Regions from separate parts of the Homo sapiens genome. Here region 1 is linked to region 2. The links come from fine-mapping of genetic effects on gene expression. Tissue or cell type: whole blood. Region 2 holds a variant in brackets; the other region holds the start of a gene. All regions are shown on one strand. Distances are between the middles of the regions. Region 1 holds the start of ARPIN (actin related protein 2/3 complex inhibitor). Region 2 holds the start of MIR5094 (microRNA 5094).

What was found. PIP is the estimated chance that this variant, and not a neighbour inherited with it, causes the effect. A credible set is the group of variants that fine-mapping cannot tell apart.
Region 1: it holds the start of ARPIN, and the variant in region 2 is the best candidate, but not a certain one, in a credible set for the expression of ARPIN in whole blood (TOPMed, PIP 0.56).

Annotation. Positions count from the first base shown.
Region 1 is chr15:89,911,282-89,914,191 of GRCh38, reverse strand. ARPIN (actin related protein 2/3 complex inhibitor) reads left to right here and starts at 1,240. Exons shown (of 6, transcript NM_182616.4): 1 at 1,240-1,448. The coding sequence starts at 1,357. ARPIN-AP3S2 (ARPIN-AP3S2 readthrough) reads left to right here and starts at 1,240. Exons shown (of 10, transcript NM_001199058.2): 1 at 1,240-1,448. The coding sequence starts at 1,357.
Region 2 is chr15:89,849,401-89,852,310 of GRCh38, reverse strand. The region is part of intron 8 of ARPIN-AP3S2 (ARPIN-AP3S2 readthrough); the gene reads left to right. All of the region lies in intron 4 of AP3S2 (adaptor related protein complex 3 subunit sigma 2), which reads left to right. It overlaps MIR5094 (microRNA 5094), which reads left to right and starts at 1,590; the gene lies at 1,590-1,674. RefSeq lists enhancers at 545-594, 2,906-2,910. The variant C/G (reference allele first, on the strand shown) is at 1,735.

The DNA of each region.
Region 1 (2,910 bases), 62 kb before region 2:
TTAGTCGGGTGTGGTGGTGAGTGCCTGTAATCCCAGCTACTCAGGAGGCTGAGGCAGGAGAATCACTAGAACCTGGGAGGCAGAGGTTACAGTGAGCCAAGATTCACCACTGCACTCCAGCCTGGGCAACATAGGAAGACTGTCTCAAAAAAAAAAAAAAAAAAATATATATATATATATATAATTCATATATTCATCTTTATGCCAACCCAGTGGTAAGATAATAATTTTTTAAAAAATTTTTAATGGAGAAAGGGTCCTTTGAAAACAAAAGTGCCTAGGACCCAAGAAAGTCATTGTCTGTGTGTGTGTGTGTGTGTGTGTGTGTGTGTGTGTGTGTGTAGCAGGGAAGGGAGAGGGTGCTTTCTTCTTCCAACATTGACAGCTCATGCTAGACTCCTAGGCACCTGCCTGGCCACCACCCCCTTTAAATGCCGCCCCCTCTCCCGGGGTACACCTGGCCTCCCTGAATGGGCCCACCTGCCCCGAGGCCTGGCACGAAGAAGCCAAACAAAAGAACAAAGATTCCTCAACAATCCCAGGGTCAGAAGAATCTTCTGTACCAGGCTTGGAAAATGCACCTGCGGACTATGACATACTTGGGCAAAGGGCATTGTGGGGCCAGGGAGGAGTTCAGGAGCTGTGCAGGAAGAAGGAGGGAGGGCAATGCTATGTTGTAGAAAGGGTGAGCTCATTAAACTTTACAATCCCCCTGATACTGACCCCATTTTACAGACGAAGAAGCATGGGCTCAGAGAGGTTGAGGAGCTTGCCCAAGCTCACAGCTGGGATTCAAACTTAGGCGTCTTTGGTCCGACACCCATGCCCCAGCTCCCTCGTCACAGATCCCTGGGATACCTGACTCAGCCATTGTAGGGCCGCGGGCGGGGCATAATGGACAGCTTCTAAGCTGACCACCCAATCCTCCCCAGTGGCTGTTCTCCATTCCTGCTTCCCAGAAACCCATCCTTCCCGGGCTGATCCTACAAAGGATCTTCTATAATAGGATCTTGGGGCCTCAATTTCCCTTTTGTGCGTGTGCTGGGGCAGGGATCTTCCTCTAGGAATGAGGAAGAGAGAGAGACAAGAGAAAAGCATGGCCTTTCTGCCCCACTGTGCTAAGCCCCCAGCCAGGGTCCTCCCGGAAGCCCAACTCCTGCCGCGCGCGGCCTGGCGTGCAGGAATGGAGCTCGGTCCCTTTAAATCCCGCCGAGGAACGCCTGAGGGCCGGGCCGCGCCATTCCCGGATCCGCCGGCTGGGAATCGCGGGTCCCCGCGCGTCCTGCAGCACTTCCCGCGCCGCGCCCCCAGCCCAGTGCGCCGGCTCTGTGCCGGGGTGCCCGGGCGGTCGGGAGAATGAGCCGCATCTACCACGACGGCGCGCTCCGGAACAAGGCGGTGCAGAGCGTCCGGCTGCCAGGGGCCTGGGACCCCGCCGCCCACCAGGGGTAGGCCTGGGCTCACGGCCTCGGGTCGGCCTCCCCTGCCCCGGCTCGAACCCCGCAACAGGATCGGGTGGGGGGGTGGGATGCGGGTGGGGGAAAACTGGGGTTGCCAAAGCCGCCTCTCCGCCTTCAGTCCGCCCCTCCAGTCCGCCGCTCCCGGCGCCCCTGCCGCCGCGCCCGCCCAGCGACCCCATGACACAGATCGGCTTAAAGCTCCCCGCCTGTCCGCCTGCCCTCGAGAGAGGGTCCCGACCCCCAGACAGGTCTCCGAAGGCTGGGCTTCGCCTCACGCCGACCTCCGGCCCCACCCCACCCGCGTAACTATAAACTCCAGCTACTTGCCGCGCTGCTTTTGCACAGACTCATGCCCTGCCCCAGAAGGGACAGTGGCCGTGCTGTGGCGGGAACAGCGGGCGGGCTGGTCCAGAGCAGGGCCTGCCTGGGTGAGGAGGATTTGGAGGGCCAGGCCCTGTCGTCACAGGGTTATGAGGCCGAAGGGACCATTCCATTTACAACTGCGCTGAAGAATTGTGCTAAGTGAAATAAGCCAGATACAGAAAGACAAATACTGTGTGATCTCGTATATGGAACCTATAAAAGCGTTGAACCATAGAAACGGCAGAACAGACCAGGCGCTGTGGTTCACGCCTGTAATCCCAGCACTTTGGGAGGCCGAGGCGGGTGGATCACTTGAGGTTAGGAGTTTGAGACCAGCCTAATGGTGAAACCCTGTCTGTACTAAAAATACAAAAATTAGTCGGGCGTGGTGGCAGATACCTGTAATCCCAGCTATTTGGGAGGCTGAGGCATGAGAATCGCTTGAACCTGGGAGGTGGAGGTTGCAGTGAGCCGAGATTGTGCCACTGCACTCCATCCTGGGCGATGGAGCAAGACTGTGTCAAAAGAAAAGAAACAGTAGAACAGTGAACAGTGATTGCCAGGGGATAGTGGATGGGGATGGGGTAATGATCAAAGGTACAAACTTTCAGTTATAGAATAAACAATTTCTGGGGACCTAATGTACAGCATGGGGTCTGGTGGGTGTGTTCATTAATCTGTGGTAATCATTACATAGTGTGTACTTAAATCATCACGTTGTGCACCTTGAATATATACAGTCTTTTGTCAGTTAAATATTTAGAAAAATAATTGTGGGGGGTGGGGAAGAATTGGATAGAGACCAGCTAGGTAGAGTTTTCACTTCCCACTCCCATCCCTATTCCACTGTCATCTTCAGCTGTCCCCATGCTTCTCCATTTCTGTGGATGCAAAAAAGGAAGCCTCCACGTTCTGCTTTTATGAAAACCAGAGTCGAGAAGCCAGGGGTCCACTTCCCCTCAGTGAAGGACCGTGTGATCTTGGACTAGTCTCAGACTTCTGAGTTTTGGTTTCTTCACCTCTCAGTAATAACCATTTCCTCGGGTTAATGACCACCTGGATATGAATGAGAAAAGGAATATGAGAG
Region 2 (2,910 bases):
TACTTACTAAGAACTAGGCACGTAATAGATAGCTAAGTGCTTTATATACAGTGTCTCATTTATTTCCTACATCATCTTTTTTAATCTTTAGAATAAGCCTGGCAGCTAAGAACTCTGGTTCTCCCCATTTTACAGATGAAGAAACTGAGGTTTATTGGTAGGAAGCCTCAGTTTCTCTAAGGTCACACAGCTGGTAAGTGATAGAGCCACATTCAGATCCTGGACTCTGATTATGGACCCGCTCCCTCTACACTCTGCAATGCTGCCTGTAGTATTCCCGCCTGCTTTGACATCCTAAATGTGGGGAAATGTGTTTGTGTCATGTTTTCTTAGCAGATAAGCAACCAAGGAAGGATGAAATTCAAAAGGACAAGGTCTGGATCTTTTTCTGTACTTAGCACTGTGCTTGGCATTTGGGATCAGCAGTGCAAACAGGTAGTAGCCAAAGGAGGATGAAACACTGGGTTAGAAAGAAAAAGTCCTGCTAGAACATTAAAAAAAAAAAAAATGATTTCACGGAGAACCCTGACTCATAATAGGAACTGGTTTTTTTAAAAAAGGAAGTAATAATATGTAGTGAGTATACTTTACTGCAGTCAACTATATATATTCAAAGAGCATAAAATATGAAGCCAGTGAGTGAGTGATCCTTTTATTAATTAAAAAAGAAGTTGAGTTGGGCGCGGTGGCTCATGCCTGTAATCCCAGCACTTTGGGAGGCCGAGTTGGGCAGATCACAAGGTCAGGAGTTCAAGATCAGCCTGGCCAACATAGTGAAACCCTATCTCTACTAAAAATAGAAAAATTAGCCAGGCGTGGTGGCACATGCCTGTAATCATAGTTACTCAGGAGGCTGAGGCAGGAGAATTGCTTGAACGCAGGAGGCGGAGGTTGCAGTGAGCTGAGATCGCACCACTGCACTCCAGCCTGGGGGACAGAGCAAGACTCTGTCTCAAAAAAAAAAAAAGAAGATGAATTAGTAGAGCATGAAGAATAATGAATGAGTTGCTAGGTAATTTGCCATTCCCTCTGCCTGGATGCCTTTTCCTCCAATTGCCAGTTAGTTTTAAGGCCACCCTTCTCTGAAATAACATAGTACTTTGTACTTGGGTCATGGTATTTATCACAGACTTCCTTTTATTATAGTTAATTCTGTACATGTTTAATCTTTCTTACTTGATTCTAAGCTCTTTAAGGACAGGGTCCACATCTTATCTTCATTTCCTTCTTCCAGCTCTTAACAATCTGTGATGTTAAGCATATTTGAAAATAGACATTGTTAGAGATTATGTTCTTTTAGTGAAAAATCGGCCAGGTGCTGTAATCCCAGCACTCTGGGAGGTTGAAACAGAAGGATTGCTTGAGCCCAGGAGTTTGAGATCAGCCTGGGTAACATGGTGAAACCCTGTCTCTACAAAAAATACAAAAATTAGCTGGGTGTGGTGATGCAGGTCTGTGGTCCCAGCTACTCTGGAGGCTGAGGTGGGATCACTTGAGCCTGGGAGGCCATGGCTGCAGTGAGCCATGATCACGCCTCTGCTCTGCAGCTTGAGTGATAGTGACAGAGCAAGACCCTGTCTCAAAAAAAAAAAAGAAAAAAATCAGTGAATGCCTTGAACCTAACACACTGCCTTTTATGTGGTAGGTACAGTGGGCTCACTGAAACATTCAACTTGTTCAACTCTATCCATTTGTCCAAAAACAAAAAGGAAATGAAAAATTCTAAATACAGTA[C/G]GAATATGCCCTCAATTCTACTTAATTAGTATATGTCTGGAATGAGTGTGACATGGAAGATTTGAATCTGCTCTTCTTTGCCTCTGCTCTCATGTGCCTGTGCTCATGTGTATCGTAGAGTGCTTAGAGTGATTCTAATGCTTAAAACAAATTTTCAATCTCTGTGGCCCCTAAACCAGCCAGCCGTTTCATCTGATGTGTAAGACAAGGCTCCACTGGATTCATTCATTGCCCACTGAAACAATGTATGATCCTGTGAGTGAAAGAGAGAAAGAAATCAATGGCTAGGGATTGAATGTCTTGTGGAATTTTATGACAAGAAGACATCTAGGGAAAACCATGGAAATGTCCAGTCTGAAGATCAAACAGTTCATAAAAGTGATTCAGAAGACACTAAGAGCAGGTGAAAGGGAAAAACAGAACTTTACAAAGCAAAGTTGCTTTCTTGGCTTGCTTTCTTCAGAGCTGCTTAGGACCAGACAGCTCTATGTGCCTGAGAGTTCCTGAAGGAATCTTAGCATTAAAATACAATTTACCATGAAATACTATGCAGCCATAAAAAAAGGATGAGTTCATGTCCTTTGCAGGGACATGGATAAAGCTGGAAACCACCATTCTCAGCAAACTAACACAAGAACAGAAAACCAAACACGACATGTTTTCACTCATAAATGGCAGTTGAACAATGAGAACACATGGGCACAGGGAGGGGACCATCACACAACAGCACCTCTCGGGGGTAGGGGGCTAGGAGAAGGGTAGCATTAGGAGAAATACCTAATGTAGATGACCAGTTGATGGGTGCAACAAACCACCATGGCACGTGTATAGCTATGTAAAAACCTGCATGTTCTGCACATGTACCCCAGAACTTAAAGTATAATTTTTTTTTAAAAAAGTACAATTCATAGGCTGGGCGCAGTGGCTCATGCCTGTAATCCCAGCACTTTGGGAGGCCAAGGTGGGCAGATCACTAGGTCAGGAGATCGAGACCATCCTGGCTAACATAGTGAAACCCCCGTCTCTACTAAAAATACAAAAAATTAGCCGGGCGTGGTGGTGGGCGCCTGTAGTTCCAGCTACCCAGGAATCTGAGGCAAGAGAATCACTTGGACCTGGGAGGTGGAGGTTGCAGTAAGCCTAGATCGTGCCACTGCACTCCAGCCTGAGCGACAG